6 separate regions of the Homo sapiens genome follow, and regions 1, 2, 4, 5 and 6 are each reported to be linked to region 3. The links are microRNA targets in miRTarBase. Many come from high-throughput screens and were not tested one by one. Region 3 holds a microRNA gene; each other region holds the end of a gene's coding sequence.
The links. Region 3 holds the annotated microRNA hsa-miR-6779-5p (CUGGGAGGGGCUGGGUUUGGC, at 2,543-2,563, shown strand). A microRNA usually pairs through its seed, bases 2 to 8, with sites in the 3' UTR of a target mRNA and lowers its output. Matches are read on the target gene's strand: a 7mer-m8 pairs with bases 2 to 8, a 7mer-A1 pairs with bases 2 to 7 and ends in A, and an 8mer does both.

Region 1 (5,295 bases), not on the chromosome of region 3:
ATCCTTTATGTACAACTACCGACTCATGAGACATAAGCGAGTTCACACTGGAGAAAGGCCTTATGAGTGCAACACATGTGGGAAATTCTTTCGGTACAGCTCCACATTTGTTAGACATCAGAGAGTTCACACCGGAGAAAGGCCGTATGAGTGCAGGGAATGTGGGAAATTCTTTATGGACAGCTCCACACTCATTAAACATCAGAGAGTTCACACCGGAGAAAGACCTTATAAGTGCAATGATTGTGGGAAATTTTTTAGGTATATCTCCACACTCATTAGACATCAGAGAATTCACACTGGAGAAAGGCCTTATGAGTGCAGTGTATGTGGGGAATTGTTTAGGTACAACTCCAGCCTTGTTAAACATTGGAGAAATCACACTGGAGAAAGGCCTTATAAATGCAGTGAATGTGGGAAATCATTTAGGTACCACTGCAGGCTCATTAGACACCAGAGAGTCCACACGGGAGAAAGGCCTTATGAGTGCAGCGAATGCGGGAAATTCTTTCGTTACAACTCCAACCTCATTAAACATTGGAGAAATCACACTGGAGAAAGGCCTTACGAGTGCAGAGAGTGTGGGAAAGCCTTTAGCCACAAGCATATACTTGTTGAGCACCAGAAAATCCACAGTGGAGAAAGACCTTATGAGTGCAGCGAATGCCAGAAGGCCTTTATTAGAAAGTCTCACCTGGTTCATCACCAGAAAATCCACAGTGAAGAGAGGCTTGTGTGCTCCATGAATGTGGGGAATTCTTTAGCTAAAACTCCAACCTCATTAAACATCAGAGATTTCACAATGGAGAAAGTTTACCATTGACTATTGTAATTGGGTAGTAATGTTATATAAATTCCACATTTTTATGCAACTAATCTCCAGAACATTTTTCCTCTTACCAAGAAGTAAAATGCTGTACCCATTAACAACAACTCATTCCCCTTCCCTACTTCCCCAGAAATGTCTCAACTATATTTCTATACTCTATGGTACTTATATGAGGTACCAATAGATATCTATGAATTTGATATATATTTGTACCTCATATAAGTGGATTCTACAGTATTTATCTTTTGAGACTGGCTTATTTCACTTAGGATAAGGTCTTCACGGTTCACCCATGTTGTATAATGTGTCAGAATATCCTTCCTTTTTAGGTGAAATAATATTCTATGGTATTTATATACCACATTTATTTATCCATTCATCTGTTAGTGGATACTTGGGCTACTTCCACCTTTTGCCTATTGAAATAATGCTGCTATGAAGATGAGTGTACAAGTGTCTATTCAAGATTCTACTTTCAATTCTTATAGGGTATATACTCAGAAATGGTGGTGCTGGATCATATAGGATTTCTATTTTTTTTTTTTGTTTGTTTTTGAGACAGAGTCTTGCTCTGTCACCCAGGCTGGAGTGCAGTGCTGTGATCTTGGCTCACTGCAAGCTCCGCCTCCCAGGTTCATGCCATTCTCCTGCCTCACCCTCCCGAGTAGCTGGGACTACAGGTGCCTGCCACCACGCCTGGCTAATTTTTTTGTATTTTTAGTAGAGACGGGGTTTCACCGTGTTAGCCAGGATGGTCCTGATCTCCTGACCTTGTGATCTGCCTGCCTTGGCCTCTCAAAGTGCTGGGATTACGGGCGTGAGCCACCGCGCCTGGCCAGGATTTCTATTTTTAATATTTTTGGGAAAATTTTTCCATAGTACCTGTGCCATTTTACATTCCCACCAGCAGTGCACAAGGATTGCAATCTATATACATCCTCACCAACATTGTTCATTTTCTATTTCTGTTTTTGGGGTTTTTTGTAGTGCCTTTTGTTTTGGATAGCAGCTATCTTGTTGGATGTGAGGTGGAATCTATAGTGTCTTTCATTTTTATTTTGTGAATGATTGATGATGTTGAGGATCTTTTCATGTGCTTGTTAGGCATTTGTGTATCTGGAAAAATATTCAAGTCTTTTTTTTCCATTTTTAATGGGACTATTTGCTTTTTGTTGTTGAGTTGTAGTTCTTTATACATTCTGGATATTAACTCCTTACCAAATATATGCTTTTTACATATTACCTCCCAGTCCATAGGTTGCTTTTTCGCTCTGTTGATTGTGTCCTTTGATGAAATTTTAAGTTTTGATGTACTGTTGACTCTTTCTGTCTGTGGGTTCTGTATTCATGGATCGAAGCAACCATGGATCAAAAGTATTTGGAGCATCCATGGATTGCAGTGATCATTAATCAAAAATATTTGGAAAACAAAAAGGGTAGTTGCATCTGTACTAAACATGAACAGACATTTTTTCTTGTCATTATTCCCTAAACTATATAGTATAATAAATATTTACATAGCATTTACATTGTATTAGAAGTTATAAATAACCTAATGATAATCTATATAGGAAGATGTGTGTAGGTTATATTCAAACACTATGCCTTTTTATGTGAGGGACCTCTTGAGCATCAGATGATTTTGGTATCCACAAGGGGTCCTGGAATCAGTCCCCCACAGACACCAAGGGATGACTGTAGTGCATTTTATCTATTTTTACTTCTGTTACCTGGGCTTTTGATGTTATATATTAAAAAAAATTAGTATCAAATCCAATGCCAAGCATTTTCCCTATGCTTTATTCTAAGAATTTTATATTTGAAGGTCTTACATTTAGGTCTTTTTTTTTTTTTTCTTTTGGAGGCAGAGTCTTGCTCTGTCACCCAGCCTGGAGTGCAGTAGTGGAATCTCAGCTCACTACAACCTCCGCCTCCTGGGTTCGAGCCATCACCCCACCTCAGCCTCCCAAGTAGCTTGGATTACAAGTGTACACCACCACACCTGGCTAATTTTTGTATTTTTAGTAGAGATGGGGTTTTGCCATGTTGGCCAGGCTGGTCTTAAACTTCTGGCCTTAAGTGATCCCCCTGCCTCGGCCTCCCAAATTGCTGAGATTACAGGCAGGAGTTGTAATGCACTGTGCCTGGCTACATTTAGATCTTTAATCTACTTGGGGTTCATTTTTGCATATGGTTTAAGGCAAAAGTCCACTTTATGTGGCTATCCAGTTTTCCAAGCACCATTTTTTGAAAAGAGCATCTTTCCTCTGTTGAGTAGTCTTGGCACACTTGTCAAAATCATTTGTCCATATATGCCATGGTTTATATGTGGATTCTCTATTTTATTGGTCATATGTCTGTCTTTATGTCAGTACCACACATTTTAGGTGTGTGTGTGTGAGACTCAGTGTTGAGGACAAGGCTAGTGGGCTTTCACACTCCAGACTGCTGTATTCCAGCCCAAATTACTCAAATTAGCCAATCCATGGGGAACATGGAAAACGTAGCTAATGCAATCCGCTTGCCTTACCTAAGTTGTCCCCTGCAGCCTCAGGTTGCTGTTACTGTGTTTCAGATGCAACCCTCTGTGGGACCCTACCCAAGTTCTCTCATTCTTAGCTATAGGTAATAAATTGTTCTGATTTTGTGTATCCAAGTGACATTGGGTTGTTTCTTGCTATCAGAAGAACCCAGAAAAGTATTATGAATCTAGTGAATGTTGGAAAATCTTTAGCCATTAGCATAACCTCATTTCGTGCCAGCATGTTCACCCTAGAGAAAAGTAGAAGTGAAGGCAATGTCATCTTTCCTTGTTAACATGATAACTCAGTAGAGCAATGCTTTGGAGATTAGCTTTTTAGGGAGAGAGCCAGCAGTTGAGCCTCCTGCATCTGAACATCCACACTAGGGATATTGTCTGTACTGCCAGATATATGGGAAGATTTTGTGAACTGTGTTGCAGTTTTCAACTTGACTGGGGCCTTTCCCAGAGTTATGCCCCTGCCAGTGCCTATTTAAAAATGTCATCTCTTTTCTACCAACTGGCAAAGAGCCATGGTGTGTAGCATTTTAGTCACATTAAAATGCAGTTATGGCAGCATGCTGTGTTCTCTATCTGAAGAATTCACTAGTCACTTGAACACTTTGGAGTCCTCACCCCCCTCCTATGATTGATTAGGGCATAGACATCAGCCTTGGACAGAAGACATGGACTGGCTTTGGCAGGCAGATTGCAGAAATTTCCTTTCTCCAGGGGAAAGTATTGGTTATCTCATTGATAGTGGTAGGAGGCAGATACATTGCTAGGCAGACTAAGGACGGGTCCCTGGTGAAACCCAAACTTCAAGCCAACGACAGTTTAAAGCCTGAAAATTGAGCTGCCAGTTCCAAGTAGAGTCCATGACTGGAGTGAGAACTTCCTCAATGCCTTTTAGCCAATCAAATGGTGCTTTTTCCAGGCCCACCCATGGACCAATCAGTATGCAGTCTCCATTCTGAGCCCATAAAAACCCTGGGCCCAGCTACACATTGGGCTACCCACTTTCAGGTCCCCTCTTGTTGAGAGCTTTTCTGCCACTCAATAAAGTTCCCTGCCTTGCTCACTCTCTGGTGTCCACATAACATCATTCTTCTTGGTCATGGGACAAGAACTCGGAAACTGCCAAATGGCGGGTGTGAAAGGAGCTGTAACACTGTAGCCCTCCTGCCTTCCACCAGCCCCAGGCAGCCACCCCATGTGACAGGAAGCAGCGGCAGCAGGGCCAGGCCAGCCCATGAGCCATGGGCTGGAGCAGGGTGGCAGGACCAAACAAGCTGTGACACACCCCCATTCACTGAAGTGTGTGGATGGTGGGAACAGACAAGCTGTAACACAAATGAGCTGTAATGCTTCCTTGGGGCTCAGACCTTGGGATTCCCTGAGCAAAAGCTGTAACACCCCTTGGGGCTCTGTGGTTGCTGGCGTCTCTGAGTTTTTGGGCGCTGCCATGTCCCCCTTGTCCAGATACCAGCTTCCAAGGCAGAAGCCGGTCGCAGCACGCCTGGACCAGCTGTAGGCCAAGCACAGAGCCATGGTGGGCACAGGATCCGGCTGGTAACATGAGCCAAGCACAGCCTGTCGGACTGAGTTAGTTGAGTGAGTCCAGCAGGCCAAGTGATGTCTGGGCAGAAGTGCTTCAGCCATGGAGGTTTCTGCCTGGTGAAGTGGCACTGAAAGTATCTTGTGTCATCATGACACTTGGGATGGAATTTTCCAACCTGCCAGTCACCCACACTGTGAACTCCTTCTCACCCCTAATGCACACACATACCCTGGTTGGTTTTGTGATAATAAAGGTCACATTGTTTAAGCTACCTTAACTCTTGGAAATCTAGTCACCGTATGCAGTGGGTTTTGAACAGAATTGGTCTCTGCTAGAATAAAAGCATGAATGGTTTTTTGTGGGACCTTTACTTTGTGAGCTCCA
Region 2 (5,295 bases), not on the chromosome of region 3:
CTTCTGCACAGCAAAAGAAACTACCTTCAGAGTGAACAGGCAACCTACAGAATGGGAGAATACTCCTATTATTTCTGAAAAAACAAGGCTAGTGAACTTTAGCATAGACTATATTTCTAATATTGTGTTAAAGCCAGGTGCAGTGGTTCATGCCTGTAGTCTCAGCTACTCAAGAGGGTTGGGTGGGAGGATCCCTTGAGCCCTCGAGACCAGCCTGGGCAACATAGATAGACTCCCCCCACATCTCTATTAAAAAGATTATGTTAAAATAATAAGAATAATATGTTATGTAAAGACTAGGGCTTCCAGTGTCAAAGTACAAACCGCTGTCTATTTTTGCTTCTCTTCTAGGCACTGCCTCCTTACCTGTGAGGAATGCAAAATAAAGCATGGATTAAGTGAGAAGGGAGACTCTCAGCCTTCAGCTTCCTAAATTCTGTGTCTGTGACTTTCGAAGTTTTTTAAACCTCTGAATTTGTACACATTTAAAATTTCAAGTGTACTTTAAAATAAAATACTTCTAATGGAACAAAAACATTGTGTCTGTCACTCACTGAAATGTATTCCGTGGAAGGCTTTCAAGTGAACTAAGCGTTACATGTTTTTCTGCTCTTTAAGAACATGTCGGGGCATGGCGCAGTGGCTCATGCCTGTAATCCCAGTACTTTGGGAGGCCGAGGCAGGCAGATCATTTGAGGTCAGGAGTTCATGACCAGCTTGGCCAACATGGTGAAACCCCATCTCTGCTAAAAATATAAAAATTAGCCAGGCGTGGTGGCACATGCCTGTAATCCCAGCTACTGAGAGGGAGGCTGAGGCAGGAGAATCACTTGAACCCAGGAGGCGAAAGTTGCAGCGAGCAGAGATTGTGCCACTGCACTCCAGCCTGGGTGCCAGAGCTAGACTCCATCACACACACACACACACACACACACACACACACACACACACACACACACAACATGTTAGGAATCCTCACACACACACAAATGACATTGCACCCCCACCCCAACTTGCTTACAGCTAAATAAGAGAATTAAGTCTTCTCAGATTAGCCTCTATTCTTTCTTTTACTCTGCTTTTTTTTTCAGTGTTTTAAGTTATCTGATAGAGAATTGGAATTAATGTTGAAGAAGTTAGGAAGTCATGACCCCAAGAAAATTAATGTGTATGGAGATAGAAACAGGACAAGACTGACTTACAGGTATGAGAAGGGCTTCCTAAAATGTAGGGGCAACATTTTTAACTTAGTGAAAAGTGTTTTGTTGGAAAGGGTCAAAATATGAATCAACTATCCTTTCAGTGCTCCAGGTGACCTTATGGTTCAACAGTATGGTTCAACAGTGGAGTTTTGGAAGTGACCATTGTCTTTTTTTGTTTTTGTTTTTGTTTTTGTTTTGGTTTTTGTTTTGGTTTTTGTTTTGGTTTTTGTTTTTGTTTTGAGACAGGGTCTTGCTCTGTCACCCAGACTGGAGTGCAATGGCATGATCATAGCTCACTGCAGCTTCGACCTCCCAGGTTCAAGCCACCCTCCCACCTCACCCTCCCAAGTAGCTGGGATTACAGGTGTGTGCCATCATGCCCACTATTTTTGTAGTTTTTGTAGAGGGGGGGTTTTGCCATGTTTCCCAGACTGGTGTTGAACTCCTGAGCTCAAGCAATCCACCTACCTCTGCCTCCCAAAGTGCTAGAATTATAGGTGTGAGCCACCATGCCTGGCCTCTTTGTCTTTAGGTTATCTGCTTAGCAAATGGGCACATGCTTATGGGCAGCCCTCAAGAATGGGGTTCTTTCATATACTACTAGTGGCCTGAAACAAGAAACACAACTTCCCAAATTGTCTCTCATTTTCCCCAAGGAACAACTTATTTATGGGAGGAATCACTGGAATAATTAATACATGGAATGATAAATTTAGAATTCTAGGGAGTTCAGAGGCAGCCAATGCAACTCCAGGGGTTGGACTCCTATTCTCCTGTCAGATTTGTTGCATGAAAACAACAATAACAAAATCTGGCCAAGTGCAGTGGCTCACACCTGTAATCCTAACACTTTGGGAGGCCAAGGCGGGCAGATCACTGGAGGAGTTTGAGACCAGCCTGGCCAACATGGTAAAATGCTGTCTCTACTAAAAATACAAAAATTAATCGGGCATGGTGGTGCATGCCTGTAATCCCAGCTACTGGGGAGACTGAGGCACGAGAATCTCTTGAATTGGAGAGGTGGAGGTTGCAGTGAGCCAAGATAGTGCCACTGCACTCCACTCTGGGCAACAGAGTGAGACTCTGTCTAAAAAAAAAAAAAAAAATTAAGAAAGAAAGGAAAAAAAAAGAAACCCTTCCATGTGGGAACCTTTTGTTTTATGTATGACAGGTTGTCTGAGCCCTACAGAAAAACTACTCTTGCATCTTTGCAACTTCTCAGAAGAATGCTTTATATATGTATCATCATTTATATCAATATATAGGCAAGGTGCAGTGGCTCACACCTGTAATCCCAGCACTTTGGGAGGCTAAGGTAGGTAGATCACTTGAGGTCAGGAGTTTGAGACCAGCCTGGCCAATATGATGAAACCCCACCTCTACTAAAAATGCAAAAATAGCCCGGTGTGGTGGCACATGCCTGTAGTCGCAGGTACTCAGGAGGCTAAGGCAGGAGAATTGCTTGAACCCGGGAGATGGAAGTTGCAGCGAGCAGAGATTGTGCCACTGCACTCCAGCCTGGGTGACAGAGCGAGACTCTATCTCAAAAAAAAAATATATATATATATAGATAGATAGATAGATGATAGATAGATAGATAGATAGATACATAGATAGATACATAGATAGATAGATATATAAGAGGTTTGTGTATGTACACATTTGGGTTTTACTTAATACATCTTGAACATGTATCATGGAAGTTAAAAGAGAAACTTCATTAAAAGTTAATCGTTTACATGAAATATTTTATTTTAAACATCAAATTATACAGAAGTTTTAATTTTTACATGAACATTAAGAGTAAGCCTCTTTTTATATTACGTATGCTATTTTTTCAGTCCATAAAGTTTTATTTCTGTAAATCAGAATGCAAAGCCAATATCCTATCATCTTAAATGCAAGTTTAACTCTTGTCTCTGATAACTAGCAGTTGGTGACTCTTTGTTATCTCAGCTATTGGCAAAAATTCAGAATTGGGCACATTTATTTCCTACTCCCCAGAAAATGATTTCCTAGGGATCAGAACATTTCACATTGCTTAGCACAGCAAGTCAATGTAAAAAATCTATCCCAAGGTACTGGGGAAAGATACATTTATTTTATTTATTTTTATTTTTATTTTTATTTTTTTTTTATTTTTTTGAGACGGAGTCTTGCTCTGTCACCCAGGCTGGAGTGCAGTGGTGCGATCTCGGCCAACTGCCTCCCGGGTTCATGCCATTCTCCTACCTCAGCCTCTTAAGTAACTGGGACTATAGTCACCCGCCCCCAAGCCTGGCTAAGTTTTTGTATTTTTAGTAGAGATGGGGTTTCACCGTATTAGCCAGGATAGTCTCCATCTCCTGACCTCGTGATCCACCTGCCTCAGCCTCCCAAAGTGCTGGGCCACTGGGGTGAGCCACTGCACCTGGCCAATACATTTATTATTGTTGAAAGGAGCATTGTTTTTACAGATGACATCTTCATAGTTCTTCTCAATCAAATTGGGTTTATTGCTTGGGCTTTCTACATTTCCTACGTAGAGAAGTTATTCATTGAAGCAGTTTATCATGACGATCTATCTTAGAGTGAAAGAAAATCAATAAGGAAAAAACTGGAAGTTCATCCAAGAGGCTTTGATTATTCTGCTGCTATTTTTTTGGGTTTCTTGTTCGTTTGTTTTGTTTTGTTTTGCTTGTCTGTCGCCCAGGTGGACTTCAGTGGCACAATCTTGACTCACTGCAACCTCTGCCTCCCAGGTTCAAGTGATTCTCCTGTCTCAGACTCCTCAGTAGCTGAGATTACAGGCATGCACCACCACGGCTGGCTAAATTTTTGGCATTTTTAGTGGAGACAAGGTTTCACCATGTTGGCCAGGCTGGTCTCAAACTCCTGACCTCAAGGGTTCCACCTGCCTCAGCCTCCCAAAGTGCTAGGATTACAGGCATGAGGCACCGCACCCAGCTGCCTATCTATTGTACATATTAGAAAGCTAGTACCTGGGGGAGAATGTCTGTTTCTTGTGTTAAAGGAACAGCACCTGCCTTTTGACATTTCACCATTACCAACACTCATCACAAAGCTGGTCACAAGCTTATGAAAGCAGTACCTTCATGATAAAAAAAAAAAAAGAAAAAAACTTGGAAAAGAACAGCAAGATAAAATCGTAGATAGACTCACGTGAAAGAAAGAACTGATGAGACTACACGGTAGTAAAAGTTGGATGTCTAACCAATTTTATTGGCAAACTTTCCCTAGGATGATATGGACTGATATTCTACAGTGACGAGAATGCAAACCTTCCCATTATTTTGAATTTGATTAATGGAATTTAAAATGTAACATTAGTTTGTCCACGGATGCACCTGTAAGAAGAGACAAACTTGATATCTGAAATCAGCAAACCTTGTCTAACACATTTGTAGTTCCTCTAGACAACATAATAAAATGTTTTTAACAGCGGGTAATGACACTAATGAAAATAAGGAAGATCCTTACTCGACCAGAAAAGATCAAAATGATTTCCTTAATTCCATGCACCTCCATGGCACTCCAGTGATGCCTAGAAGTGTGTTTCTTTCTTGGCTTACATACAAGTGGATGACTAGAAAGGATGCTTTCAAGATATTTTTAGTTTCAAAGGCATTAACCAAACATTCCACCATTAGCTATGGTGATCATTTGTTCTAAATTTTGCCTCAGTTTGTGTGATCCTGGAGTTCAAAAGTTATTACTATAAACTGTATTCTAATGAAATGTATGTTTTATAATTTAAAAAATAGTGGAATAATCCTTTTGTGTTTGTTTCTCTTATTAAAATAGATCAGTTTCCAGAAAGACTCATATGTTATAGATATTATACTGTATATTATTACATATATAAATATGTAGCATATAATATACTGTATATAATGCTTATTATATATTTTAAAATTCTCATTTAAACAAAGATATTCTCTTCCTTTGCTGTCAGAATGGTTTGTCTAGTTTAACATTATGAAAGTAATAAAAATGTATCTTGCGTGATTTGATTAAGTAATAGCAATAAAAATGTATCTTGAATGATTTGATTAAGTAATGAAATGTAATGCAAATGTTGTGTAGGCAATTT
Region 3 (5,295 bases):
TCAGGGTAGGGCCAGGGTGCCGCTGGGCCAGGGTGCCGCAGGATCTGGTTGCCACAGGGTCAGGGTGCCGCAAGCACAAGGAGTCACCCGTGATTCTCCAGGGTCTGGCTCTTGGGCTGAGATCCAGGAGACCTTGGCAGGCCTGTCTTTGGGAGTCTGGCACAGCCCCAGAAGGCCATCTGGACAGTTTTCAGACCTGAGAGGAGGAAAGGGCTTGTGTCTGGAGAAGGTGCCATGGGGGATGGGAGGTGGAGGAAGCCTGGGGCCAATCAGGATCTGGATCTAGCAGGGAACACCGAGGCCGGTGTTCTCGTCCCACCATGGGACTCAGCCTGAAGAAGACAAGGTGAATGAACGACCATTTCTCTCTAACTCAGTTGGCTAAGAGGACTGAGCTGGCGCCGAGGCTCTGGACACAAATGGGCCAGTTGACCCTGAGGTTTCTTTCTGGTAGTGGAGGTGGGGCTTCCTCTGGCTGACCCTGCTTAGGTCTCTGATGGAGGTAGCAGGGGCTCTGGTTCCCCCAAACTGGCCAAGTCCTCCACCATAGCACCCAAGGGGTCTGGGCAGAGTGCAGCTTCCCTCCCCTCCCCAGCTTGGCTTGGTGGGCACCTGCCTCCCCTGCCCTCCTGACCTTGATGGCTAATGCAGCCAGCCCCAGGCAGGCACAGTCACAGCCCTCAAACAACATGAGGCCCAACTCAAGACTCCTGGGTGGTGGTGGTCAAGGTGGGGGACTCTGTAGCCAGTAGAGCACTGTGGGGGCAAGAGACTGACTTGAAGGCTTGGAGCCTCACATGCCCGCCTAGTGGGGTGGTCCTGAGGGATATGACTTCTTTGGGCCTCTCTGCTCATTTTTGGAACCTGACCCGAGAAGGAGCCCATCCAAGACAATGTCCCGCCCTCAGGGAGGGTCTGGCAGTTTTTATCCCTAAAGGCTGGGATTCTCAGCGGAGCATCCTAGGCTGTAGTACCCACGACATCTTGCACACAAGAGGTGGAATCGCCTGTTGATGAAGAGCAAGGCTCTGGAATCTGTGATCTTGGGCCACTCACTTCACTTATCAATCCCTTCGCTTCCTTCTTGCCTGTTACATGGGGTCTGCAATCTACCCCTCAGGGGCGCTGACGAGCTCACATGAGCCTGTGACATAAAACACCTAGCACGGCCCTGGCGCAGTAAGAGCTCAGGAAACGGGCTGCTGCTGTGGTTACTGTGGACCCAGGCGGAAACAGAGCAGCCCCGCCCCTGCCGCAGGCATATAAAAGTGACCACTTGGCCGGTCACGGTGGCTCACGCCTGTAATCCCAGCACTTTGGGAGGCCGAGGCGGGTGGATCACCTGAGGTCAGGAGTTTGAGACCAGCCTGGTCAACATGATGAAACCCTGTCTCTATTAAAATACAAAAAATTAGCTGGGCGTAGTGGCAGGCGCCTGTAATCCCAGCCGCCCAGGAGGCTGAGGCAGGAGAATCACTTGAACCCTGGAGGTGGAGGTTGCGGTGAGCTGAGATCGTACCATTGCACTCCAGCCTGGGCGACAGAGCCAAACTCCGTCTCGAAAAAAAAAAAAAAAGAAAAGGGACCACTCACTTTGGTCTGATTCTTCAGTTCTCATGGTCCTTTTACATCGGTCATTTCATTGCATTCTCCAACAGTGTCTGAGGGAGACTGGTGTCTCATTTTGCAGAGGTGAAAACTGAGGCTTGGCAAGATTAGGTAGCTTGTCCAAGGACACACAGCTGGTGCTTCCAGAGCGAGACCTGGCTTTCTGTACCCAAAGCTCTTGGGTAGTCTCTCCCATCCTGGGATCTTGAGGGTCACGGGAAGGAACTGGGTGGTTTGCAGTGGGACCCTTCACCTAGTGCCTTCTGACCTTGCAGATAAAATACCATGAGGAGTTTGAGAAGAGCCGCATGGGCCCTAGCGGGGGCGAGGGCATGGAGCCAGAGCGTCGGGATTCACAGGACGGCAGCAGCTACCGGCGGCCCCTGGAGCAGCAGCAGCCTCACCACATCCCGACCAGTGCCCCGGGTGAGTGCAGGTCCTGTTGGTGCAGATGACCTGAGGCGAGGCCAGTGGGGTGGGGAGGAAGCCAGGAGAAGACAGACAGACAGATACACCTTCCGGAGCCTTGCTCTTAATCAACAGGCGATTATGCCTCTTGTGTGCAAGAGGGGACCAGAGGACCTGAGGCCGGGCCAGCTGGGGTGGGGAGGAAGTCGGCGAGAGACAGACACACACACACACACACACACACACACACACACACATGCACGCACGCATGCAGGCGAGGAAAAGACTGCTTCCCAAGACCCCAAGTTCCATTCTCATCCAGAATGAGGACGTGAGCACCAGGGTCAGGCCTGTACTGGGCCAAGAGGATTGAAAGGAGAGGCCCCCAGGTCATGGGGCTCAGAGCCCCTGCGTGGGATACAACACACAGGCAAATGTGCACACGTGGACATCAGCCTTTGAGCTGTGGGGCTTGAGCCAGGTTGGGGGCGGGGTGGAAGTGCATGGTATGGACTTCTCGGGAGCTCTGGGAGGGGCTGGGTTTGGCAGGACAGTTTCCAAGCCCTGTCTCCTCCCATCTTCCAGTTTACCAGCAGCCCCAGCAGCAGCCGGTGGCCCAGTCCTATGGTGGCTACAAGGAGCCTGCAGCCCCAGTCTCCATACAGCGCAGCGCCCCAGGTGGTGGCGGGGTGAGTAACCCTGGCCGGAGGGGAGAGGCCAGAGGCAGGGGGTCCTTCGGGAAGGCTTGGACACAGCTCATGGATTCTCCTGACCTTTGCACCCACCCTCTGTTGTGTGTGATGATAAGGATCTCAGCCTTGTGAGCAGAGAGGAAATTGGTTGGCGTAGTGGGCAGAGGCTGGCTGGGACTGGGGCCCTGCGTTCCAGCCCTGGTGTACCATGGGCAGGTTGCTCACCCTGCTTTGGGTGGGGTTTCCTTACCCCAGCTACCTGGGAACACACAAGGCAACTTTCTGCATGGGGCCTTCCAGCACTGGGCGCTGCTCTCCTCGCTTCATGAGGATGGCCCCCACATCCTTCAGCTCTCAGGCTGCCCCTGCCTCTGAGGGGCCTCCCCAGCCATGTCGTGTAAAGCGCATCACCCTGATGCTTTGCATCACTCGACTCCGCTGGCTGCCTTCAGAGCACTTTTTCCAACTAAAAAGAGCTCTTCGTGTTGGTCACCTTCTCTGTGTCCCCTGCTGGGCTGGGGACCCTGGCAGCGTCCGTCTGGTTCACCTACTCTGAGCCAGGCCTAGAGCAAGTGAATAAGCCCAGCAGGAATGGGGTGAGATCAGGCTTCCTGAGCCCTCAGAGCTGAAGTCCCGGCTCTGTAAGTCCTGCCACTCACTCCACCCATGGGTGCCGCTGAGCCACCCTTACCAAGCTCCTGGCAGGCTCAGCGCCTCCAGGCTGGGTGCCTGGGAATTCAAAGTAGCTCACGTAGGAGCAGAACAGATACTTAGAGAGATAAAATCGCCTGAGATAATGGCTGGCTGGAGTCTGATGCTCTGGGCACACAAACAAAGGGATGTTAGGACTGCCCAGGGCACTGTGGGCGCAAGAGTTAGTCTGAAGTATAAGGTTCCAGGCAGCCCAGCCAGTCCCTCCCTCCTCAATGGGTCTGTCCTGGATGTGTAGGGTCCATCTCTGAATATAAAGCCACCTCTCTGCCCTCTGGGGGCTTACATTCCAGTCAGGGGGACAAACAAGAAAACAATAAGAAAATAGGTGTATAACATAAGGTCAGCGGTGACACGCTGTGAAGAGAAAGACAGCAGGGTGAGGGATGGATAGAAAGCAGCTGGATTAAGACATTTGGCCGGGGGTGGTGGCTCACGCCTGTAATCCCAGCACTTTGGGAGGCCAAGGCGGGCAGGTCACTTGAGGTCAGGAGTTCGAGATCAGCCTGGCCAACATGGTGAAACCCCCTGTCTACCAAAAATACAAAAATTAGCCAGGTGTGGTGGTGTATGCCTGTAACCTGTAATCCCAGCTACTCGGGAGGCTGAGGCAGTAGAATTGCTTGAACCCGAGAGGCAGAGGTTGCAGTGAGCCAAGATTGCACTATTGCACTCCAGCCTGGGTGACAGAGCAATATCTCCAAAGAAAAAAGACATTTGGCCGGGTGCGATGGCTCACACCTGTAATCCCAGCACTTTGGGAGGCCAAAGTGGGCAGATCACCTGAGGTCAGGAGTTCGAAACCAGCCTGGCCAACATGGTGAAACCCTGTCTCTACTAAAAATATAAAATTAGCTCGGCATGGTGGTGCATGTTCATAATCCCAGCTACTCGGGAGGCTGAGGCAGGAGAATTGCTTGAACCTGGGAGGTGGAGGTTGCAGTGAGCCGAGATCACGCCATTTGCACTCCAGCCTGGGCAGCAAGAGCAAAACTCCAGCTAGAAAAAAAAAAAGAAAAAAAAGACGTGACATTTGAGCAAAGTCCTCAATAAAGGAAGGAGTGAGCCGTGCAACGAGGACAGGAAGTGCAAAGGCTCTGAGGCAGGAATATTCTAGGAAAGTTCAGGGAGCAGCAGGAAGCCCGAATTGACTAGAGTGGGAGAGGGTGGGAGGTCCGATTATGCAGGGACTTGTGGGCCCCAGGAAGGCCTCTGTGACCTGTGATCTGTGCAGAGCGACATAGGTTTTTGGAAGACCACCCTGGCAGCTGTGTTGAGAAGAGGCAGTGGTTTGAGGGTAGAAGCAGGGAGACCGTCAGGAGGCTGTTGCAGGATATAGGCATGGATGGGAGTGGCTCAGCCCAAGATAGAGGCAGAATTGGTGATGAGAGAGACTGAGGTTACTTCATGGGAGGTGTGACTTCTTATCCCATAGACCTGTTGGTTTCAAACTGTCCTGTGGAGCCTCAGAGACCAGTCAAGGGCAGTGAAGGTCAGGGGAGGTAGAATGTTGTCTATAGCTATAGGATTTATTTTTCTTTTTTTTTTCCTCTTTCTTTTTTTAAACTCCATCCTGGTAGTAGGTGGCGCTGTAGGTTTTTGTGTGCCTTACTGAACATTACCTAGATCTAGGGCTTAAGCGGCAGATTTTGGCTGAGGCTTGGAAGGTGGAACCTGATAGACTCGTCTTCTGTCCTCTGAAGATTTTTCTCCCAAGGAAAGATCTTTGTCCTGAACTTGGACAGGACTCATCATGGCTTCTAAAAGAAACTACTGGTGCTTATAATCATACAAATAATAGCATACAGGGCATGTTTTTTCTGTTTTTTTTTTCTTTTTTGAGACAGGGTCTTGCTCTGCTGCCCAGGCTGGAGTG
Region 4 (5,270 bases), not on the chromosome of region 3:
AGTATGCTGCAGAAAACATGGCTGCTGGCAGATGAGGTAGGGTCAGGGCCATTAGGAGGGTGGGATATTAGAGGATCTTGGGGGACAGAGACCACAACAGGATCTCATTACCCACTTCATAAGTTTTCTTTCCTTTCTGCAGGGTCTCCGGCAGCACCTCCTGCACTATAAGCTTCCCAATTCCACGCTCCCAGAGGGCTTTGAGCTCTATTCTCAGTTGCCCCCTCTGCGTCAGCACTACCTCCAGAGACTGACTTCAACAGTGCTCCAAAATGGGGTATCAGAGACCTAGGATAGTTGATATAGATGGAAAGATGGGTACGTTGTCCTGTATCCAGCCTTTCAACAGATGTCTGGCCAGACGAAGAACATTGTGTCCTAATGGTAGGCAGGAGACCAAGGAGCAGAAGGCTTGCCTTCCTGGGAGCAGGTTGTTTGAGCTGTTTTAGAGCAGTGAGCCCTACCATTACATCCTGATATCTGGGGCTTCTGAAGGTCTGTACTGGGAGTGAAGAGTGGCTTAGCTATTTACCCGCTCTTTGGGGACAGGGCAAACTAAATGCATCCCTTCTTACCTAACTCCCAACCCCTGCCCTGGGCTGAGGCATATGAATGCTATAGTTGTGCATTAAAATAAATGTTTTTTATCTCCTGGAAATTTGATCTGGACTGATTTCAGCCATGTTAGTTCAGGGTTAGTATCTGGGGGTGGGTTATCCCAGGTGAGGAGCAGGACTGCTGTGAGAGAGATGGGGAAGAATCATAAGTGGGAGGTAAAAACTTTGTCCACATCTGGAGACAACAAGAATGTGGGGCCTGCCAGGCACAGTGGTACACACCTGTAGTCCCAACTACTTGGGAGGCTGAGGCAGGATGATCACTTGATTCCAGGAATTCAATTCCAGCCTAGCCAACATAGTGAGACCCCATGTCTGTCTGTCTGTCGGTCGGTCGGTCTGTCTATCTATCTATCTATCTATCTATCTATCTATCTATCTATCTATTTCTGAGACAGGGTCTTGCTCTGTTGCCCAGGCTGGAGTGCAGTGGCGTGATCATAGCTCACTGCAGCCTCGACCTCCTGGGCTCAAGCCATTCTCCCACCTCAGCCTCCTGAGTGGCTGGGACCACAGGCAAGTGCCACCACGCCTGGCTAATTTTTTGTATTTGTAGAGACGGAGTTTCACCATGTTGCCCAGGTTGGTCTTGAATTCCTGAGCTCAAGCAATCCACCCACCTCAGACTCCCAAAGTGCTAAGATTACAGGCATGAGCCGCTACACTTGGCCTATTTTGGTAGTTTCTACATTGTTCTTTGGTCTGAATTCTAAACTTTAGGCTTTCTTAGACTGTCTTTTGCTGTGTGGATTACTTATTGTGTTTGCAAGTAACCAGAGTCAGAGCAGTGTGCCAAGGCCTAGCCCTGTCAGTAGGTAGAGAGAACCCAGTCTTCATAAATGGAGCTGCTGAACACAGAATTATCCAATAGGTTTTTTTGGGTTTTTTTTTTTTTTTTTTTGACACGAAGTCTTGCTCTGTTGCCCAGGCTGGAGTGCAGTGGGGCAATCTCAGCTCACCACAACCTCCCCCTCCCTAGTTCAAGCCATTCTCCTGCCTCAGCCTCCCAAGTAGCTGGGATTACAGGCGCGTGCCACCACGCCTGGCTAATTTTTGTATTTTTAGTAGAGATGGGGTTTTGCCATGTTGGCCAGGCTGGTCTTGAACTCGAACTCCTGACCTCATGATCCGCCCGCCTCAGCCTTCAAAAGTGCTGGTATTACAGGCATGAGCCACTGGGCCCAGCCTTTTTTTCTTTTTTTTTTTTGAGACAGAGTCTTACTCTGTAGCCCAAGCCAGAGTGTAGTGGCATGATCTTGGCTCACTGCAACCTCCGTTTCTGAGGCTCAAGTGATTCTCATGCCTCAGCCTCCCGAGTAGCAGGGGCTACAGGCATGCACCACCACACCGGGCTAGTTTTTTGTATTTTTATTAGAAGCGGTGTTTTGCCATGTTGCCCAGGGTGGTCTCAGACTCCTAAGCTCAGGCAATCCGCCCACCTCAGCCTCCTAAAGTGCTGGGATTATAAGTGTGAGCCACAGCATGTGGCCCCAATAGGTTTTATTAAGCAACTACTGTATCAGCAAATACCAATGATTCTCAAACTTTGTGACAAAAATCATCTGGAGGATATTTTAAAACAGATCACTGGGTCCTACCACCAGAAGCTGCTGATTCAGTACATCTGGGGTGAAACCCAAGAATCTGCATTTCTAACAAGTTCCCAGGTAATACTGATGCTGATGTTCAGAACAAACCACACAACCACAATTTGAAGAGCAGTGGCTTAAAGAGACTTTGCAAGGTAAATTCTGTGATCTCATAGTGTGATATCTAGTGTTAAGTAGGGCATAGAGACCAGGGTTTTTTTGTTTTTTGTTTTTTTTGAGATGGAGTCTCACTCTGTCACCCAGGCTGGAGTGTAGTGGTGCAATCTCGGCTCACTGCAACCTCTGCCTTCCAGGTTCAAGCAATTCTCTGCCTCAGCCTCCCAAGTAGCTGGGATTACAGGCACCTGCCACCACGCACGGCTAATTTTTGTATTTTTAGTAGAGACGGGGTTTCACCATCTTAGCCAGGCTGGTCTTGAACTCCTGACCTTGTGATCCACCCCACCCCCACCGTCCCCTTGGCCTCCCAAAGTGCTGGGATTACAGGTGTAAGCCACCACGCCTGGCTGAGACCAGACTTTTTACAAAATCACTGTTCTGTTTACACCTTGAATTATACTCAGACTTTACCAAGTAGCTAACTACTATAACTTCTCTTTTGAAGTATTTTGTATTAAACATAGGTCTCAGACTTTCAAGTTAGGATTTTTTTTTTTTTTTTTTTTTTGAGATGGGGCTTTGCTCTTGTTGCCCAGGCTGGAGTGCAATGGTGCGATCTCGTCTCTGCAACCTCTGCCTCCCAGGTTCAAGCCATTCTCCTGCCTCAGCCTCCAGAGTAGCTGGGATTACAGGCGTGCGCTACCACGTGTGTCTGATTTTGTATTTTTAGTAGAGACGGGATTTTGCCATGATGGTCTAGCTAGTCTCGAACTCCTGACCTCAGGTGATCTGCCCGCCTCAGCCTCCCAAAGTGCTAGGATTACAGGCATGAACCACCGCACCCGGCAAATGATCATTTAAGCAAATGATCGAAGACTCAAGACACAAAACTACCTGAAGGGAGTGGCTCCCACATTTGTAGGGTACCTTACAGAGCAATTTCCCTTCATATGATTTTGCAGGTGGTGGGGAAACTCTCAGGGCAGTTGTGGCCTGTGCTACATCACCCATTGACCAGAGGTGCCAGTACTAGTGCTCAAGATCAATCGATCGATCGGTCTACCTACCTATCATCTATTGACCTTCAGTGCTACTAAAAACACTCGGATCTTCTAACGTCTGGTCCAGTCTTTCACCCCATCACAGTGAGAGGCTGTGCACAGGGGTAACACAGGCAACGGAATTATATGAGGCAAACACAGAGATCCAGGTTTCTGGGAGTAGCAATGAGGTTCAGCCTTGCAGTCACAAAGGCACCACTAAAAGGCACAAGTAATGGCAGGTAATGAGGCCTTACTTGGAGCAGTTTAGAGTACTTCCCACGTGTGGTGACGCATGCCACACACTCACCACCACCACCACTGCCACAAATGAAGTGCACACTCCACTGCTCCTGTCCTCAGGAACCTGGAAGCCCCCACCTGGTGTCCGAGGTGTGGCTCCCACTTTAAGCGTGGGGCACCTCCTCTCCGGCCTCAAACCTACCGGAGCTCCCAGCAGGCTGCGGCACATCTGACGGCTGGAAACTAGAACCCCTGGGTGGGGACTCCTTAAGGCTCCTCCCGGAAGCGTAGGGACCTCGCTGCCCACACGCCCCTCCCTTTCCTCCTCTGGCGTCCTGGGGTCTGAGGTGGGCGTGGCCAGACCAGCTTTAGGTCCGGGGAGTGTCTCGCCAGCGGCAGCACACCCCTGTAAGTGGTGGCCAGGGCTGCCGTGGCAAAATGAGCTGTCAACTTTAGGTTGACAGGGGTGTGGCCGCGACCGCAAGGGCTTTTGTTGCCGGGTGGACCCAACAGGGATGGGCTGCTGGGGACAGCTGCTGGTGTGGTTCGGAGCCGCGGGTAAGTGCTATCTGGCGGTCAGGGGACCGTCCAGCCTGAGGCACTTTCCTAGGCTTGGGGGTGGCCGGTCAACAGGCCAGGTGTCAGTGGTTCCTCCAGAGGCCTCGAACTCTCACAGCCAAATTTCTCCGGTCCGTGCTTCTGGAGTGCGGGCCGAGAAGCGCCAAGTGCGTGCGAATCCCAGAGTCTGGATCACGCAGCTTGGGAAGGAGGAACATTCTTTGGGGTCTCAGCACCGCCTTGGGGCGGGGCCACCAATCTAAGTTGAGGAAAGCATTGGGGAGGCTGCAGGACCAAATTCATTGCGGCCCCTAAGTTATTCACTGGGAAAGGCGCTCGAGGAGAGAAACTGGCAGACCTATCAGCGCGCACCCGCGGGGCTTCTGCGACCGGAGTCGGGTAGTGGCTTCCAGGCTGAGAGCGCGGCTGGGCCGGGTGACGGGTGTGGCCGCGACCGCAAGGGCAGCTGTTGCGGGGTTCTCTCTTTCTTTCATATCCTATTTCCACCCGCCTTAACGTCCTGCGCCTTCTCCCAACACCTTTCAGGCGCCATTCTCTGCTCTAGCCCGGGGTCCCAGGAGACTTTTCTGCGGTCCTCGCCCCTGCCGCTGGCAAGTCCCAGCCCCCGGGACCCGAAAGTCAGCGCCCCGCCTAGTATCTTGGAGCCAGCCTCCCCGCTGAATTCTCCGGGTGAGCTTTAGACGCCTCCTTCCTCTTTCGCTCACCATACCAGACCCCTCTGGCCCAGCCAGGGGCTCGACGACCCTTGCCTCGCTCCTTGCTCTCAGGCACCGAGGGGTCTTGGCTGTTTTCTACCTGCGGGGCCAGCGGCCGGCATGGGCCCACACAGACACAATGTGACGGGGCGTACGCGGGGACCAGCGTGGTGGTGACCGTGGGGGCCGCCGGGCAGCTGAGAGGCGTGCAGCTGTGGCGCGTGCCGGGCCCTGGCCAGTATCTGTAAGTGCACGGCGGAGGTAGGGTGGACAGTGACCTGCTAGTTGGAGGTTTCACCCTCAGGGTAACGAAGTCCACGTGCGCACCGACTTGCGTCTTGGACTATTCCGCGGGGAGGTCCACCTTGAGTGCCCTTCAAGGTGGCA
Region 5 (5,295 bases), not on the chromosome of region 3:
GCACCAACATTTAAGTGTGGAACTAATAAGAAGGAAGTCAGGGAGATGGGAGGAGAGTGAGTTTGTTTTAAAGGTTAACAGGTTAACATCTCTGGGATGCTTCACTAAGCTACTCACAACTCTGGGTTGGCTTGTCAAGGTCACATCAACACTAATGTAAATAAGGTGATGCTACATTCCATTAAGCCACTTGTTGTTGGGAATTCTCTCAAACTGATCTGCAATTCAGAACCACGGTGAGCAACCTGTTGCCTCACCAGACTGCCTGGAACTGAGCTTGAATGTTGCTTGGGCAAGGTGTTTTTTCTCTGAAAATGTGCGTGAAAAAGCATCACGAAGGCCGTTTTTGTCAGTGTTGGCTTTGATGGATCATTCCAGAGAAATATGCTCTGTAGGAAATGAAAATATCATTCACTGAATCCTTCTGAATTCAATTAAAAACACCACTTGGGTTACACAGAAGCCCAGGAGAACCAGGACAAGGCGATCTAAAAAAGTTCCAAGGAAATAATTCTGACAAAGAGCATTACCAACTGATGGCAGAGGGGGACTCTTACTAGGCTGTACAGATGAGTTTTCAAATTGGCAATCTGTTTTGCAGAACCTGAGTATTAATCCTGAAGGAACTCATGTGAATCTTAGTTTTGACTTTTTTTTTTTTTTCTTTTTGGAGACAGAGTCTCACTCTGTTACCCAGGCTGGAGTGCAGTGGCACAATCTTGGCTCATTGCCACCTCCACCTCCCAGGCTCAAGTGATTCTCCCACCTCAGACTCCCGAGCATCTGGGACTACAGACACGTGCCACCATGCTAATTTTTTGTATTTTTGGTAGAGGCAGGGTTTCGCCATGTTGCCCAGGTTGGTCTTGAACTAACTGGGCTCAAGCGATCCACTCACTTCAGCCTCCCAAAGTGCTGGGATTAAAGCGTGAGCCATCATGCCCAGCCCTTTGAAAGTAATTCTAAGAGCAACAATGGATCAAGCTGGTATCCACCCATCAACAGTCAGAAAAGCAGCCTGGGTAATTTAGATGCAGGGGAGAGGAGTACTAAATAAATGCCAATCAACCAAGCCAACTACAAAGAAACAGGTACTAAAGAAAATTGTGATGCATTCCTGAACTGGGAGACATCAAATGATATGATTTTGGTTTCATTTTAGTATGCAATTTTCTAACTACCCCAATGAGAGTAGGAAACAGAATTTCTGTCAACAGGATCGACACTGAGCCAGTGTTGCCCAACATGTTTCTTAGGATTCATAAGCCTTAGAAAGACATTACCCATTCTGGCTGCATTTAGCTTCCTCTGCCTGCAGTTTCTACTCTAGCTGGTCTTTGCCCCTCCCTTCTGGACTCCTTGAGGTGCTTTTCCCTACCCAGAAAGGGGCTAACAAGTGGGGCATATGGGACTCCTCCAGCATACAACATCTCAGAGACAGAACCCTGCTCTGATGGACACAGGGCTGAACAATTCCATCTTTTTTTTTTTTTTTTTTTTTTTTGAGACGGAGTCTCGCTCTATCACCCAGGCTGGAGTGCAATGACACGATCTCAGCTCACTGCAACCTCCGCCTCCCAGGTTCAAGCGATTCTCCTGCCTCAGCCTGCTGAGTAGCTGAGACTACAGGCTCGTGCCACCATGCCCAGCTAATTTTTGTATTTTTAGTAAAGACGGGGTTTCACTATGTTAGCCAGGATGGTCTCAATCTTTCCTGACCTTGTGATCCCCCTGCCTCGGCCTCCCAAAGTCCTAGGATTACAGGTGTGAGACACCACACCCAGCCAACAATTCCATCTTATGAGCTCATGAGATTCCTCGTTGACTGCAGGCTGCGAAAAAATGGGGCTGGGCTGTAAAAGGCTGTACAAAAGGTCCACCAGATGACAGCACTTTTGTCAGGATGTGTGTGCCCTTGGCCTTACTGTGAGGGGAGGGCCCACTGCCCTGCAACACTGAGGTGGGTGGAAGAAGCACATGCAGTCGGGGCAAGAGAAGTCTCTTCATATGGACAGTGATTCAGGAGACTAGCTCCCTAAGAACAAAAGTCAGTCCCAGCTTCCCTGAGATGGAAAAGCACTTTGCATGAAGATGGTGATACAGTTTTGAAATTAACACTCGAAATTAGGCGTTGTAATGGTTTGTGGACAAAGGGGTTAAAAGCAGCCATCAGCACTCTGCCTCTAAGTTATATGCCACTATCTGCTTTAAATCACATCACAATCCCCTCTCAGCCTTTTTGCTAAGATCAAATGCAGTATCTGTTCTTATCAGTTTAATAAATCACACCACGTATTTCCACTACTGTTTTTACACAGTTTATTCAGAAGTTTAAAAGTTAAAATGTGGGCATTTTCCCCTGAAACAAATCATCCCCTGCCACTCCCCAACACAAAGACTCTCCCAACACCGCAGTTCCTTCTCTTTACCCAGGCTTACCACACATTCTTGCAAAACACACAGGAGTCAACACCCCAACTATTTGGTAATACAAAGAGACTACAAAGTCACACAAAAGAATCTCATTTACTTCCTTTTCACTAGCAGGCTATGAATGAAAGACTGAGAGGCAAACACATCACCTTCATCCAGAGTTGACACTTCCCTAACCTTTTTTCTTCCTCTAAGAGGTTAAAATCCAAAGTAGTTTCACTGACAACTGTAACTCTGATATTCCATTTTTCTCTTCTGAATGGCTAAGCTAGGACATACTTTCCTTTCAAAGCTGATCTTCAGAACCTCAAGACTGGCAGAAAGCAGGCTCCCAGCTGCAGCTCGGCCACAATACTTTGCAACAGGCAAAGTTCCCACATAGGTGCAAATGATGCTTTAAGAGTTATCAAAACTTTTTAAAAAATAATGCATTAATATGGAGCCTCCACATTTTTCTGACGAAATTCCTCTAAAGGTGGTGGCAGCTGTGAAACAGAAGGCACTTTGTGCTAAAATTCAGAGGGTCTCTCAAGAGAGAACGCCACAGCAGAGAGACCCAATCCGCCTAAGTTGCAGGCGACCCTTTAGGGTGGGGAGGAGTATCCCCCAGGAAGGCATCTGCAAAGGAAAAAATTGTAATCATGATTCCAAGGCAAAATGGCTAAAGTTGGGAGAGAAGAAATACCAAGAGAGAAGACAAAACATGGCTGTGCCAAGGACTGAGGAGTGAGCTTTACAAGGACTTGTCAGCTGGCTCTGTACTTCTATTGGGCTGGTTCCTTCACCATTTCCAAAGGGGTTCTGGAGACCTTGCAGGAACAGGAACAGCACCTTAGCCAAGAGGGTTCCAGGCCTCCTGCCTAGGCCTGGGCTCTCCTCGTTAGGTTCCCAGGAATAAATTGAGTTCCCATTGGCAGCACTTGCAGGTATTGCTAGTCCACGGCAAGATCTGTCTTAGGGATTTTCTGGTACAGCCGTGAAGAGAAAGTGAGGGTTTTCCACATAATCCGGGATTTCTTGGCAATGCCCAAAGACTTTCTGGGCCTTCTAAGAGCAACAGTGGATCAAGCTGGTAACCCCCATCAACACTCAGAAAAGCAGCATGGGTATTTTAGATGGGGGACAGGAGGAGATAAATCAATGGATTGACAGTCTTTATCTTAGTACCATAAATAAAGTGCACCATGAATGGAGGCTATAAGCCACTCGCCTGAGGCTGAGGTATGGGTAGAAACTACCATCACCACCCTCAGGGTGGCGGATCATTTCCTTCAGCCAGAATCCTGGCTGCTGAGACTGTCTTTATTGCTTTATTTCCTTAGTACTATGGAACTTTTAGCTATAAAGGAAATACTTGGTGGGCTTGGCAGAGAGCGTGTCACAAAATTACAGGAACTGGCTGATATTCGATGACTATACACGACAATCTCAATAATGTTGGATGATGGCTGTTTTTCCCCTTCATTCTGATGAACTTAGGAAAACTCAAGTTATTTTTAAAACACCTATCAAATTGGCTCATGATGCTTCTCTTCCAAAGCAGGATAGCTGTTTATGGCCGACGTAGTAGAAATGGTTGTCTTTGTTTACAGTTTTTCAGATGCATTATGGAAGAAAATCCTCTTACTACCACATTTCAGGAGACTTTACTATGACATATTGGTGGGTTCCATCAACTTCTTGGAAGCTCTTCAAGAGTGTGAGAGGAAAAGCATGATGTTATACAAAGAACTCTGCTCCACATAGGATTCCGTGGCAAGAGTACTATTTTGCTGCTTTCATGTAGGAAGGTATTGCCCCCCTTGCAGTCAGGCCCTCAAAGCGCTTGTACGTGTAATTGATGAAGACCCAGTCTTTGTTCTTGTAGTCAGTCTCAGGATGATTACTTGTGGCCACTGGGAAAGAAATAGATGTGAGAGTTGATTCACTGCCTTGCCTCCAATGGACTGCTCACGGTGCTGAAGACAGGACTATGAAGAACACACCAGTTTCTATTTGGGAAAGCTTATTTTTCACTCTATGAATTTTTTTTTTTTTTTTTTTTGAGACAGAGTCTTGCTCTGTCGCCAGGCTGGAGTGCAGTGGCGTCATCTCAGCTCACTGCAACCTTGCCTCCCGGGTTCAAACAATCCTTCTGCCTCAGCCTCCCCAGTAGCTGGGACTACAGGCGTGTGCCACCATACCCAGCTGATTTTTGTATTTTTAGTAGAGATGGAGTTTCACCATGTTGGCCAGGATGGTCTCGATCTCTTGACCTTGTGATCTGCCCACCTCGGCCTCCCAAAGTGCTGGGGTTTCAGGCATGAGCCACCGCGCCTGGCCTCACTCTATGAATTTTCCACATTTTCTTGCTCATGTTCTTTAAATCTCATATTTCTTCACAAATTTTTTAATGTTTTATTTTCCCATTCCTGTCATTTCAGATTACCTAACACTTAGTAAATAACAAAAGAACAGATTTTTGTGACTTACTCACCCAGTTGAGCAGTCTAAACATGGGAGCTGATACTCATTTTCCATTCACCAAGGTTTCACCACTACCCAGCATTAGAATTAGAAAAGTACTTACAAAGAACCTGAAGAAATGAAATTCCTCTCCATGTTCACTACCCTGATTTGTAAACATCATCCCAAAATTGGGGGTAAATAATGTGCTTATAAGGCAGCAGGAGACAATGCTGGTGGTGTTACCTGTTGGCTTAAGAATATCAGATTCTGGAAACTCATCGAAGTTTGAGGTATCATCAATGCTTTTGATTTCAATAGATATTGCAGCAGGTCTCTCTCTGCCAAGAATACACATGCCAAAAATTACTAAGTTAGTAATCAAATGGATCATACCAATCAAGTCTTTCTCCAAAA
Region 6 (5,295 bases), not on the chromosome of region 3:
TATTTTCACCACCCAGGACAGTAGGGACATGGTCAAAACTTAACTAACTATTGAGGCTGCCACATTGGCTGGAATATGCCAGCTGGATTCCACAGAGGCCCCAGACTGAGGCACTGCCTATCAAGTGGCTGCAACTCCTGCTTGGAATTGTAGAAATCCCATGCTGACATCAGAGGTGCACAGAGTATGAGGACCAATACTTCTAAAAGGGTAAAGTCATAGCTCTCCAGAAATCCTTTGGAACCAGAAAGACAAAACAGTCACATCTGTTGAATAGGTGAAGAGGGCTGATTCATCAACTCCACATGTGGGTGAGTATCCTTCACAGACTTCTTTGGCTGAGCAGACCACATCTTAAGCACCAGCACCAGGACAAAGTATCAGTGCAACCAGAGGCAGAAAGTTGGGCTGGGGAGACCAAGACAGGGTCAAAAAAAGAAGCTAGAAGAACTTTGCAACAAAAGCACTTTCTAACAAGCATTAGAAGGGTGTATTGTGGATGTGCTCCCCATTACTCTAGCAACTCAAAAAGATGACTGGCCATCTGTTGGTACTGCTTTGCAAGAGAATCATGCGGGAGATAGGAAAGCTGTCTAAATGTAGTAGCTTTCTGGGTTAAGACAAGCCCAGGGGAACAGACCACCAACCTCCCTCACCCCTACTCTTAGGCCAACCCTTAGAAGTCCATCTCACCTTCCTCATCAGCTGAGTGGTAGTACTTTGAAATGATCAGAACACAGGCTTGGCTGGGGTCAAACCCATCTGAGTTCAAATCCCAGCTTCACCACTTGTCAGCTGTGTAGCTCAGGAGGAACTGGATTAACACAAGGCGGGGCAGGACCAGCAAGACCCTAGCAGTGCTTCCTACACCACAGCTCACCATATTATCTGCTCTCAGTTTAAAGACAGACACTTGTCAGCTATCAGCTCAGTGGACCCAAGTATTTCCCATTTACAAAATTCAGTGTATTTTCTTTTTCCCTTTAAGGTGAGGGCACCAGCTGGGGAAGGCATTCCCACACAAGAGAACACTCAACTGTCATTACTCTCAAGGTATTCCGTGGTCCATGGAGGCTGGTCCACTTGACAAAGCTTCCAAGGTCTTGTGGCTTTGAGTTTCTTTGACCAGCTGAGTTTCTGTACGGGAGTTTCCCCACCATCCAAGGCTTCCGTAAAGCTGCTAGCCCAGCTGCTCTCCTGAGCTGGTTCCTCTACCATCTTACAGCCCCTCTACCATCTCGGTGTCCAGACTGCACAACCTGGTGAAACACTTCTTGGACTCTTACCTCCAAAAAGAAAAAAAAGAGCTTGTATGTACTCTTTTATGGACCATAGCAGAGATCACGAAAACAAGAACTGTGGGCTCAGAAAACTCACTAGGCAAGCAAGGGAGGGACAGACTGTCCAGGACCACCTACGTGGGCTAAGGACTCTGGAGAACAGGGAGCTCTGGAAGTGGCGCTGGAGCAGAGGAATGCAACAAAATCTGGATCTGGAGTTAGTATGGTAGCTGAGAACAGGACTTCCAGCTCAGTGGGAGGCCACAGAGATCAGTGAAGAGACTGCTGCAAAAGTCCTCAGAGCCCAACTAGGATTGGTGACTGAAGGAGAGTGGAAAGATGCTTTAAGAAAAAAAAAAAAAAAAAAAAAAAAAGAATGACTCTTAAGGGCTACTGGGAATGGGGGGTAGGGGAAAATATTTTTGAAATGGGAAAAGTGGAGAATAAACAGTCACACATTAAGTTGACCTTGAAATAATGATTCACTGTCCAAGCAGTGCTTACAGATCTCTGGAGCCAAGGGAAAGCCATCAGTAGTGGGAGGGCCCTGGGGTTTCACCAGAGAGGATGCCTGAGGTGGGGGGGCATCTTGGATCAGCACTCCATGGTTGGTACTTCTGCTCAAACTTAATCTCCAGTTCGGTAAAACTATTAATGTTTTAACTTAGTAAAATCAAGTCAACAGTGTAGGAGGAAAGGCTTTAAAGTGGTTTACAAACAAAAAGGACTAATTCATATTGATAACCACTCAGTTACTAATTGAGGTAGCTTAACCATGTATCTTCAGTTTAAAGACAAAATGAACTACAAAGAAGTCGTGAACTTTAGAAGGTTTATTGTTGATAGAGCTGTAGTGATTCTGAAACTTGTATTTATGGTAGCACTGAGCAAATGAGTGAAATATATTGAGAATAATGGGAGCCAGGGTTATTACTGCTGTGGTAAGAGAGACAATACAGAATGGGGGAAGGCAAAGAAGCACCCATGGTGTTGGATTAAAAGTTTCAGTATGAACTCATGATTTAAAAGTATGATAAATATGTATTCATATATACATGTGTCCCACATATATATACACACACTTATTTGCATAAATTTTCCTAGTTCTGTCTGCTGAAATGCCTCAAAGCAATGATATCCAGTATCAGTGTGAATACCTAGTGCCAATTTTAGCTTCTAAATGACATACCTACTAAAAGAAACTAAGAAACTACTATATACTACTACTACATACCTATTAAAGAAACTCCTTGGAGAAACTGCTGATTCCTGGGCTGGGCAAGGAAAATACAAGATAAGCCTAGAGCATTATCTTGTCAGAAAATAACGAAATACTAAAAAAATCAGTGGGATATATTAAAAGCACTTTGGGAGGCTGAGGCGGGCAGATCACGAAATCAAGAGATCGAGACCATCCTGGCCAATATGGTGAAACCCCGTCTCTACTAAAAATACAAAAATTAGCTGGGCATGGTGGCACACACCTGTAGTCCCAGCTACTCGGGAGGCTGAGGCAGGAGAATTGCTTGAACCTGGGAGGCAGAGGTTGCAGTGAGTCGAGATTGCGCCACCGCACTCCAGCCTGGCGACAGAGCGAGACTCCTTCTCAAAAAATAAATAAATAAAATAAAATAAATCAAGTCCAAAATGATACTAAGAAAACAAAAACAGGAGAAAAGAAAGCTCCCTTCCTTACCTAGAGTTCCAACTAATAAATATGAGAGAGTTAGAAACTCAACATTTTATAATCAATGCAGAATCATTGATTGAGGCAAAAATCATCAATGAATACTAAAATTATTGGGTGAAAGTTTATTTATTTAATTTTCTGAGACAGAATCTAGCTTTGTCACCCAGGCTGGAGCACAGTGGTGTGATCTCGGCTCACTGCAACCTCCGCCTCCCAGGTTCAAGCGATTCTCCTGCCTCAGCCTCCTGAGTAGCTGGGCATGTGCCTCCACATCCGGCTAATTTTTGTATTTTTAGTAGAGATGGGGTTTCACCATGTTGGCCAGGATGGTCTCAAACTCCTGACCTAAGGTGATCTGCCCACTTTGGCCTCCCAAAGTGCTGGGATTACAGGCATGAGCCACTGCGCCTGGCCCAGGTGAAAGTTTATTGACAGACAAGATTAAATAATACCCCACAAATTAGTTATCAGTTACAAAGAGAAAATGGTAACTACCATGGAAAAACCTTTGCAGCCACGACCTTAACCATGTGATCAGAATCAGTTACCAACAGGAGGAAAAACTGACATAATGTGCTTACTAATGTGACGCACTGAAAGGAATATGTGTTAGTCTTATCTGAATCTAAACCTCAGGAAACAGACATCCCAAACTGAAGGACACTCTACCAAATAACCAGCAAGTAAGCTCTCCTCAAAAATGTCAACGTCATGAACGACAGACTATGTAAGACAAAGGACCTTGTTCCTAGGAGATACAAGTTTCTAGGAACACAGGGTCACGAATCTGCAACTGACTTTCAAAGGGGTCAATTAAATAATTATATTGTATATGTTATACAATTATATAATTATATAATGTATAAATACATAATATAAATATATAAATATATATAATCATGTTAGATATAATTATACATTAATTATATTAATAATATAATTAGATATATCTTATATGCATATTATATATTATTAGATATATCTACGTATGGAAGAAATAAAGCAAATGGAGAAAATGTTACCAACTGGAGAATCTAGGTGAAGTGGATACAATACACTTCTTGCAACATTTCTATCGGCTTGAAAATTTTCGCAATTAAAAAGTTTTTTTTTAATTTTAAGAACACATTTCTGGAAATAACCTGAGTCAACATAGGGTGCTATGCCTTATTGAGCATCTGTACTGCTAAACACATATACCACAATTGCAAACATCACATTTAATCCTCAATTCATGGAGGAATTAGGAGATAGATAGGGCATATTACCCTATTTTTAAAATAAGGAAACTTAAGCCTAAGAAATACTTTGCCTTAAAAACTTACTATATATCTCACCTATGGATAAAAAAACTAACTCGAGAGGAAAAAGAACAATACCCAGAGGTGTGAAATAAAAATCAGCTCTAGATGATAACACTGTGTACTATTTTTCTTTCTAGTTGTATTGATTTTTCAGATTTCCACCTAAAAAAATCGAATTTATGCTCAAAAAATACAACTTAAAATGTTTAAAAAAGTAAATAATTTTACAGTAAGGCACAAAAGAGATCTTTCTAGAATTTAATAAACTTAGTTATTCTAAGTTATCCAACTATTTGGATTCCCAGGTTTCATGATTGCAAAAGGCAGGAATGGGATGTGAATGGGCAGACAGTAATTCAGTTCTTGGTTTCTTTTCCTTTGATTTGTTTACAATGGAATATTTGCATGTTTTCTCCAAGGACGTTGTACCTTCTTGCTGGCCAAGACATCCAGGTCACAGCAGATTCGGGCACGTGTGGAAGAAGGTTGGATGATGTCATCCACAAACCCTGGTGAAGCACAGAAAAGGGAGTGGATCATCTGCATCCCGAGATGATGCCACCCCTCAACCTTCTGCTCAGCCTGGGCACCATCCCTGGGGCCAGCAGTATAAGCAGTGCCCAACCTGATACAGAGATGGTAGGCCCTGTGAATTCCCCCTTGTATCCCAGGAGCTGGCCTGTTCTGACAGCTCCCCAACTTCTGGCCTAGGAGCACTTGGCAAGAAAAGGAAAATCGGACACCCTCCCTATACCCTGCTTGCTCCAATGCCTCCATCCTGCCACAATGAATTCAATAGGAAATAAAGAAAATACATCTAGGTTTTCAAAAATGGCTATAACAATTCATCCTTGTACACAAGTCCTGCAATGTGACTTTACCACTTCTCTCTTCAAGAGGTGGATTTGTATTCCTTCGCTTAACCTTGTTGAGTTTTCTTGGCCTATAAAATGTGGCAAAAATGACACTGTGCAACTTCCAAATCTAGGCCTCAGTTTCCCTTTGCCCCCTTGCTACTCTC

Region 1: miRTarBase lists ZNF548 as a target of hsa-miR-6779-5p. Seed matches in the 3' UTR shown: 7mer-m8 at 1,454-1,460, 7mer-m8 at 2,072-2,078, 8mer at 2,792-2,799 and 8mer at 2,927-2,934.
Region 2: the mRNA of OCIAD2 is a reported target of hsa-miR-6779-5p. The part of its 3' UTR that is shown has no 7-base or 8-base seed match.
Region 4: miRTarBase lists RPAP1 as a target of hsa-miR-6779-5p. Seed matches in the 3' UTR shown: 7mer-A1 at 580-586.
Region 5: miRTarBase lists STK38 as a target of hsa-miR-6779-5p. Seed matches in the 3' UTR shown: 7mer-A1 at 3,101-3,107.
Region 6: miRTarBase lists PCCB as a target of hsa-miR-6779-5p. The part of its 3' UTR that is shown has no 7-base or 8-base seed match.

The regions. Positions count from the first base shown.
Region 1 is chr19:57,399,067-57,404,361 of GRCh38, forward strand. It overlaps ZNF548 (zinc finger protein 548), which reads left to right. Exons shown (of 4, transcript NM_001172773.2): 4 at 1-3,926. The coding sequence ends at 823. Among named protein-coding and RNA genes, the nearest start is that of ZNF17, 9.4 kb to the right of the region's middle. RefSeq lists an enhancer at 4,753-5,252.
Region 2 is chr4:48,880,622-48,885,916 of GRCh38, reverse strand. It overlaps OCIAD2 (OCIA domain containing 2), which reads left to right. Exons shown (of 7, transcript NM_001014446.3): 7 at 352-898. The coding sequence ends at 433. Among named protein-coding and RNA genes, the nearest start is that of OCIAD1-AS1, 23 kb to the right of the region's middle.
Region 3 is chr17:38,912,442-38,917,736 of GRCh38, forward strand. MIR6779 (microRNA 6779) reads left to right here and starts at 2,538; the gene lies at 2,538-2,601. It overlaps LASP1 (LIM and SH3 protein 1), which reads left to right. Exons shown (of 7, transcript NM_006148.4): 5 at 1,884-2,034; 6 at 2,602-2,705. RefSeq lists an enhancer at 1-430 and a silencer at 4,234-4,412.
Region 4 is chr15:41,512,564-41,517,833 of GRCh38, reverse strand. It overlaps RPAP1 (RNA polymerase II associated protein 1), which reads left to right. Exons shown (of 25, transcript NM_015540.4): 24 at 1-36; 25 at 143-658. The coding sequence ends at 292. LTK (leukocyte receptor tyrosine kinase) reads left to right here and starts at 4,007. Exons shown (of 20, transcript NM_002344.6): 1 at 4,007-4,167; 2 at 4,714-4,857; 3 at 4,956-5,127. The coding sequence starts at 4,125. RefSeq lists a silencer at 4,642-4,721 and an enhancer at 4,428-5,175.
Region 5 is chr6:36,491,587-36,496,881 of GRCh38, forward strand. STK38 (serine/threonine kinase 38) reads right to left here. Exons shown (of 14, transcript NM_007271.4): 13 at 5,125-5,219; 14 at 2,306-4,328. The coding sequence ends at 4,198. It also overlaps the pseudogene LOC124901558. Among named protein-coding and RNA genes, the nearest start is that of KCTD20, 51 kb to the left of the region's middle.
Region 6 is chr3:136,329,393-136,334,687 of GRCh38, reverse strand. PCCB (propionyl-CoA carboxylase subunit beta) reads right to left here. Exons shown (of 15, transcript NM_000532.5): 15 at 4,519-4,783. The coding sequence ends at 4,662. Among named protein-coding and RNA genes, the nearest start is that of PCCB, 82 kb to the right of the region's middle.